Regions from separate parts of the Homo sapiens genome. Here regions 2 and 3 are each linked to region 1. Evidence: fine-mapped expression QTL. A gene starts in region 1. Each other region holds a variant in brackets. All regions are shown on one strand. Distances are from middle to middle. Region 1 holds the start of URM1 (ubiquitin related modifier 1). Region 2 has its middle 11 kb from the start of MIR219A2HG. Region 3 has its middle 5.4 kb from the start of MIR219A2HG.

Evidence for each region. PIP is the estimated chance that this variant, and not a neighbour inherited with it, causes the effect.
Region 2: its variant is fine-mapped to the expression of URM1 in testis (GTEx, PIP 0.96).
Region 3: its variant is fine-mapped to the expression of URM1 in fibroblasts (GTEx, PIP 0.97).

Annotation. Positions count from the first base shown.
Region 1 is chr9:128,370,060-128,372,559 of GRCh38, reverse strand. URM1 (ubiquitin related modifier 1) reads right to left here and starts at 1,186. Exons shown (of 5, transcript NM_030914.4): 1 at 1,145-1,186. The coding sequence starts at 1,179. RefSeq lists enhancers at 988-1,087, 1,151-2,014, 2,015-2,500.
Region 2 is chr9:128,403,546-128,406,389 of GRCh38, reverse strand. No RefSeq gene overlaps it. Among named protein-coding and RNA genes, the nearest start is that of MIR219A2HG, 11 kb to the right of the region's middle. RefSeq lists an enhancer at 833-1,633. The variant C/T (reference allele first, on the strand shown) is at 1,209.
Region 3 is chr9:128,397,686-128,400,185 of GRCh38, reverse strand. No RefSeq gene overlaps it. Among named protein-coding and RNA genes, the nearest start is that of MIR219A2HG, 5.4 kb to the right of the region's middle. The variant C/T (reference allele first, on the strand shown) is at 1,544.

The sequences.
Region 1 (2,500 bases):
GGGCAGAAATGCTGAACGCTGTAGGGCACGGACAGACTTCTATTTATCTTTGTATCCTCAGTGTCTGGCTTGCTGCCCGGCACATGGTAGGCACTCAATAAATGGCTGGTGAATGAACTACCCAATTAAGGGAAAACATGAAAGAAATGGGAGGCATCCAATGAGAAGAAAGGCACTGGGCAGAGGTTTTAGATTCCCATCCCAGACTTTTCCTGTCACATAGACCTTGGCTTATCTACACACACACAGGCACACACACACACCTACCTATTCCACACACACACACACACATCCCTACCTATTTCCTCTTTTCCACGTGATACTGTAAAGTACACCACCCATCTTTCAAGGCCTGTTTCTTTGCCTTCTCTCTAAGCTCTGCAGTTTCCCTCAGCTTTGAAACCATATGACAAACCTGTTTGTAGGAAGCACAAATAGTGCCTTGGGTAGACTTCCTCCCTGCTCTGTGTTTCTTCAGTAACTGGTGTGTGTCCCAATCTCTGCATTTTTCATCTTGTGTATACTATACTGTCCCTGTTAGTTCCCTTCAGTGTGATTTCTTATTTGTCCCCGTGTCTCCACCTGACTCCAGTTCTGCAGAAGGCAATCAGCAAGTTTACTGACTGTCCTGAAGGAGGCTCAGGTCTGTTTACCATCCCCAAGTCTTAGGAAAGAAAAAGAAAAAAGTCCCGCCCTGGCCACTACATCCCACGAGAAACAAGACCTTAATAACAGTGTAAAAAGAAACTGCTGCCCAAAGAATGAAATCAGCGGGTGGAGGGTGGTCCTTCTAGGTTCTAGGAGCTCAGATGCCAAACAGATGGGATTGGTCCGAGATAGGAATGGAAAAGAAGAGAGAGAGGCTGCCTGCTAACAGTCACGACCTCCGACTCCGGCGGAGCACAGGGCACCGAGTGGTACACAGAGAGCATTTCCCTCCCAATGTGCGCCTCTATTTCCGGACAGACGGCCTCACTGCCAAGAGAGACTGGCCTCTCAGACTCTCCTAGGCGGGTAGCGTAGCTCACAGCGGGCACTGGGACACCCAGTGATTCGGCCGTGTCAGGCCCCACGGCAGAAGGAAAGGAATTCTGGGCCCGACGACTTCAATCCATCCCCACGGCGCCCCAGCTCTGTGACTCACCCGAACTCCACCTCCACTGACAAGGGCGCAGCCATGTTGAGGAAGCCGAGCTCGCAGGAAACTCCCCTCAACTTCCGGCGCGCCCGCAAATTTCCGGGCGTCTCCGGGTGCCGCGGACGGAAGAGGCGGTGCCCAGGGATCCAGCTTCGTCAGCTGTTGGAGGAAGTCATCGAGGGGAGGGGAGGGGAGGGGAGGGCAGCGGAGGGAAAGGGGTGGCAGAGGGACTATCACCGGCGCTGTTGGGGCTGTGAATCGGTCTCCTTCCGTCTTTCACCGACTGGGCTCAGAGACCCAGGGTGGGAAGCGCCTTGTACGGGACCACAAGCAGGCGGAGGAGAGCCCCCAGGTTTTTTGCGACGTGACCGTGAGCCACGTAGCTGCTTATCTTGCATGAGTTAGAATCTCTTCAGTCTACACACCGCTTGGGCCAGCCCATCTACTCGTCTGGTTGGAATTATAAATGACTCCCAGATCTTTATTTCCGACCCAGAATCTCTCCTGAGCGGGCGACTCGCTATCCAGCCGCCCCCTTTGCTGTCGATTTGGAAGTCACTCGTTCAACAGCTGTTCATTGCGCCTCCCTGTGCCAGGCATTTTGATCGGTGCTAGTGGTAAAGGGGATGGGCAAGGTTCCTGCCTTTAGGGCACTCACAGTCTAGCGGGGAGACTAACTGTAATCAAATAAGCATACTAAGACATGTACAACCTCAAACTTAAATAAAGGAACTGAAGTTATAGGAACTTCAAAAAGAAAACTGAGTAGACTGGACTTGCTGGGCTCTAAAACCTGAGTAAACTAGGTGGCTGTGAGGGGAGAGAAACCTCTAGGAGCATTCCAGTGAGGAGGACAAAAGGCCCAGAGGCTCTGGGTGAGAACATGCTGGAACATGGAGAGGAAGGTGGAAGTTAGGGAGCCTGACTTTCATCCATCTAGAGAGGGAGCTGCAAAGGTGCTCAGGGGCCAACCCCTGCCTTGTAAGCAGGTAAACATTTCAGTCTCTAGGAGCAGTGGGAGACTACTGAAGGGTTTTGGGAGACAGTGACATTTTAGAATTGTGTTTTAAAATATAATTTCTGGCTGCAATATGGAGAATGATTTGAGGGGAATAAGGAAAGAGACACGGAGACCACTGGAGCCTGTTGCAAAAGCTCAGGGCAGGCCGGGCGCGGCGGCTCAGGGCAGGCCGGGCGCGGCGGCTCACGCCTGTCATCCCAGCAATTTGGGAGGCCGAGGCAGGCGGATCACGAGGTCAAGAGATCAAGACCATCCTGGCCAACATGGCAAAACCCTGTCTTTACTAAAAAAATACAAAAATTAGCTGGATGTGGTGGCGTGCGCCTGTAGTCCCAGCTACT
Region 2 (2,844 bases), 34 kb before region 1:
ACAAATAAAAATAAAACACAAAAACCTGGCTGGGAATCCAGGAGTCCTATACCCTAGACTCCAGCCCCTCCTACCTCCTCACATTCCCAGCCCTCTCCTCCAGCTTCTCTAACCATCCCTTCAGCTCCCCTCACCAAACCATCAGTGACACACGAGTCCCAGACAGAGGGTGAGACAGTCACAACAGAAAAGGCCACAGAACCATGAGGACTCACGGAGATTGTGGGGGTCTTGGGGAGCCCCGACATGGACAACCTCTCCCTCCCTCACTGCCTGGCTGTGGGGCCAGAGGAGCACTCACCCGGGCAGAGCCTCTTGGGGGTACTCCTCAGCCCAGGAGGTGGATGGCACTGCTGGGGCGTCTCTGGCATAAGGTGACTCCCACCCAGCTCCTGCTGCTGAGAAGGACTGGTCAGGCGGGGCCCTCAGGTGCCAGACCGCCCTTCCCGGGCACAGATTTTCCTGGCATCTGCTGGGCAGGAAGGGCACTGGCTGGGGGTTGGGCAGAGGAGCAGGGAAAGATTTGAGCAAAGACGTCTCCCAGAGGGCTTCCCCCTAAACCTTCACCCCACTCTCCTTCTGGACACTGTAGGCCAAAGGTCCAGGAAGACAGGGAGCCTCAGGAGTGGGGAGAGGTCTGATCAAGGAGGCTGAGAGGAGCCCAGGCCCCTGCCCCCCGACCGCTCCCATCCACTGCCAGCAGGGCCCACACGGAGGTGTTTGCTTTTCCTGCCTCTACACTGACTCCATTCAGAGCAGCCGATCCCCACCCCCGGCCAACGACCAGAAAGTCAGGGCACCAGGGAGTGAGATCACGGCCCCCACCTCCCCCTCCACAACCCTTCCTGCCCTCTTCACTGCAGGAGATACCTCAGCCACAAGGGCTTCCTAGTTTCATGGACGACTGGGGCGTGGGGGGCTGGCAGGAGGAGAGAAAGAGGGAAACCAAGTCGAGAAGAGGGTGGTGGGAAGTATCTGAGGAGAGGGACGCAAAGGGACACGGACGATAGGGCTCCTGATGGAGGCGGCCCAGGCAGAGATGGGGCAGGGACAGGATGGGGGAGCCACAGAGCAGAGGACTGTCTAGGAGGCAGGCAGGGCCGTCACTAACCAGTCCAGGGCCTCACAGCCTGGCTCTGCACCGGTCACGGCCAGCAGGGCCCGGAGTGGACACTGAGGATGGGAGCTCCTGGCGCCCACCTGGAAAC[C/T]AGCCTCCTTCTCATCCCCGGAACAAGGGCCCAGGCAGAGCTGTGACCTGGTCTGTGGCCAGGGGAAGGAGGAGGGTGAAAAGTTTCCCCAAGTCAGAAGGCCATGGGGGAGGCATCTCAGGGGGTCCTGCTCTTTGCTGTCTCTGACTGTCACATTGGTACATAAAGGGGGTAGAAAGGTCAGATGCGGCCTTTCAGGCCCGTGGGAAAAACTCAGCCCATTTCCCTAATCCATATTTATTGGTGTGAGACACTGGGGTGGGAGGAAGCCCGCTGCCCCCACCCGCCGCCCCAGCCAGGCCAGGTTAGCACTAAGAACAGGCTCCATGTCACCCAAATCCTACTCTTTGTCTCCAGATTGGCTCCAGAATCCTCCCCCATCCCTCCTCCCCTTGGTCCCCCCCACCCAACCCCCCTCGGGGTTGCCAAGCAACCATGGAAGGGTAGCTGAGATATTTTCTTTATTACAAGCAAAAGCAAGACAGCATCATGGCCCCAGGAGGGGAGCAGGGTGGGGGCTGGGGGAGAGGGTGTCCTGTGCTCTGGGGGGACTCAGCCACCTCCACTTGTTCTGAGCGTGAGCAGTGGGGAGACAGGGCCCCAGAGCCCAAGAGAAGGAGGGAGATGGAAGAGAGTGTTGGTGAAGGGGTGGGTGGAGTGTGCAGACACTGGTCCACTCTACACAATGCTAAAAGATGGGGTGGTGCCATGAGACCCAGGCCTGAGTCTCTCACCTGCCACCCACCAGCTGTGCCATCTGCACCCAAGTCACTTCCCTTCTCTGGGCCTGTTTCCTCCTTGATAAAATGGGAATAATAATATGTATTATCTCATTTAATCCTCACAAAAGACCCAGGAGATGTTTATTTTTCCTATTTTATTGGTTAAGGAAGCTGAGGTTGGGAGGTATGAAGTCATGTGCCAAGCAGGTAAGTGGCAGAGGTGGGATTCCTGAGCCCCATCCCTCTCTTTTTATCTTTTTTTTTTTTTTTTTGAGATGGAGTCTTGCTCTGTCACCCAGGCTGGAGTGCAGTGGCAGAGTGGCGGGATCTTGGCTCATTGCAACCTCCGCCTCCCGGGTTCACGCCATTCTCCTGCCTCAGCCTCCGGAGTAGCTGGGACTACAGGTGCCCACCACCATGCCCAGCTAATTGTTTGTATTTTTAGTAGAGATGGGATTTCACCGTGTTAGCCAGGATGGTGTCGATCTCCTGACCTCATGATCCACCCGCTTCGGCCAGTGCTGGGATTACAGGTGTGAGCCGCTTCGGCCAGTGCTAGGATTACAGGTGTGAGCCACTGTGCCCGGCCTCTTTTTTTTTCATAACAGCATTGTTGAGATGTAATTCACATGCCATGCAATTTGCCTACTTAAAGTGTATCATTCAACAGCTTTTAGTATATTCAAGAATTGTGCAACCATCACAACAAGCCATTTTATATTTTCATTATTTTGAAAAGAAAGCCCATACTCAGGCTGGGCGTGGTGGCTCACACCTGTAATCCCAGCACTTTGGGAGGTCAAGGTGGGCTGATCACCTGAGGTCAAGAGTTCAAGATCAGCCTGGGCAACATGGTGAAACTACATCTCTACTAGAAAAATACAAAAATTAGCAGGGCGTGGTGGTGGGCACTT
Region 3 (2,500 bases), 28 kb before region 1:
CTGAATAGCAATAGGGTTCTTTCCTCTATCCCAGGCTGCCAGGCCAAATCACAGTGAAACCCGGATTGACAGAAACACTTGGGGACAGGAATCTAGGGATGGAAAGATCTGGCACAGAGGTGGAGCCTGTCGCCACAGCTGTTCCCTGGGCATCTGTCTGCATGCTCTGGGTCCTGGACTTGCCTTAAAGTGCAGAACTGAGGCTGCTGCATGACAGAAGCCCCTCCCAGCCCCCTTCAATGAGCCTCACCCACAGCAATATCTCAAGTGCCACACCTAGAACCTCAGCTGATTGGCTGCAAACATCCGTGCACCCACTGTCAATTCCTTATTAATTTCATCTTTCACTCCATTGTCCCAAAGTCTGCTTTTTCATGCATCCGTCTCCATCTACCATTCATTTAATTATTACTTCAATAAAGCATTCATCAATTCATTCATTCATTCATCATTCATTCAACAGATGTTTACTGAGCATGTCCTTTGTGCTGAGCACAATGTTTGGTCAAATCCTTGGTAAAGGCCTGGTGCGGTGGCTCACGCCTGTAATCTCAGTACTTTGGGAGGCCGAGAAGGATCACCTGAGGTCAGGAGTTCGAGACCAGCCTGGCCAGCATGGCAAAACCCTGACTCTACTAAAAATACAAAAATTAGCCAGGCGTGGTGGTGGGCACCTGTAGTCCCAGCTAAGTGGGAGGCTGAGGCAGGGAGAATTGCTTGAACCTGGGAGGTGGAGGTTGCACTGAGCCGAGATTGCGCCACTGCACTTCAGCCTGGGTGACAGAGCAGGACTCCATAACCAAAAAAAAAAAAAAAAAAAAAAAAATCCTTGGTAAAATGCCAGGCCAGGCCAGGCCAGGTGCGATGGCTCATGCCTGTAATCCCAGCACTTTGGGAGGCTGAGGTGGGCGGATCACTTGAGGTCAGGAGTTTGAGGCCAACACAGTGAAACCCCATCTCTACTAAAAATACAAAAATTAGCTGGGCATGGTGGCACACACCTATAGTCCCAGCTACTTGAGAGGCTGAGGCATGAGAATTGCTTGAATCTGGGAGGCAGGGGTTGCAGTGAATGGAGATTGTGCCACTGCACTCCAGACTGCGTGACAGAGTGAGACTCCACTTCAAAAAAAAAAAAAAAAAGCCGGGTGCGGTGGCTCACGCCTGTAATCCCAGCACTTTGGGAGGCTGAGGCGGGTGGATCATGAGGTCAAGAGATTGAGACCATCCTGGTCTCAACCCACCTCTACTAAAAATACAAAATTTAGCTGAGTGTGGTGGCACGTGCCTGTAGTCCCAGCTACTTGGGAGGCTGATGCAGGAGAATTGCTTGAACCCGGGAAGTGGAGGTTGCAGTGAGCCGATATCACGCCACTGCACTCCAGCCTGGATGACAGACCGAGACTCCGTCTCAAAAAAAAAAAAAAAAAAAGCCAGTCCTGGTGGGAAGGAAGGGCTTGCTTAACTGGCAGTGTGGACAACTCTGCCGTCTTCTTTTTTAATTTTTTTTTTTTTGAGACGGAGTCTTGCTCTGTTGCCCAGG[C/T]TGGAGTGCAGTGGCGTGACCTCGGCTCACTGCAAGCTCCGTCTCCCGGGTTCACGCCATTCTCCTGTCTCACCCTCCCGAGTAGCTGGGACTACAGGCACTCGCCACCACGCCCGGCTAATTTTTTTGTATTTTTAGTAGAGATGAGGTTTCACCGTGTTAGCCAGGATGGTCTCGATCTCCTGACCTTGTGATCCACCCATCTCGGCCTCCCAAAGTGCTGGGATTACAGGCGTGAGCCACAGCGCCTGGTCTTCTTTTTTAATTTTTTTGTTGAGACAAGGTCTCACTCTGTCACCCAGGCCAGAGTGCACTGGTGGGATCTCAGCTCACTGCAACCTCCGCCTCCTGGGTTCAAACAATTCTGCCTCAGCCTCCTGAGTAGCTGGAATTACAGGCACCTGCCACCACGCTCGACTAATTATAGTATTTTTAGTAGAAACGGGGTTTCACCATGTTGGCCAGGCTGGTCTCAAACTCCTGACCTCAGGTGATCCGCCCGTCTCAGCCTCCCAAACTGCTGGGATTACAGGTGTGAGCCACTGCATCCTGCTGACTCTGCCATCTTCCTGAGAGTTGGTTGTGTGTGTGTGCTGTGTGTGTGTGCGCATGCACACCCGGGGTGTATGGTGGTGATGGTGGAAGCTCATGATGACACATTACTTAACTGCAAGCACATGCAGAGGGTGTTTGGATCCTCCTAACACCCACCCATTTCTAGAGAGGCAGGACAGGCACGATGGATAGGCACAGAGGCTGTCACTAAGATTCAGCCTCCTGGAATCACTTGTCCTGGAAGCCCAAGGCAATGCTGGCTCTTCCTGAAGTCTTCCCACAGCTTCCCTGTTGGAATGAATCTCTGTCTTCTATAATCCCCAGAACCTTGCTAATTCTTCAGCTACCGTGCTTTCCCGGGGCTCTGCTTTCATTAGAGTTGGCTGGGTATTTGTGTCTGTT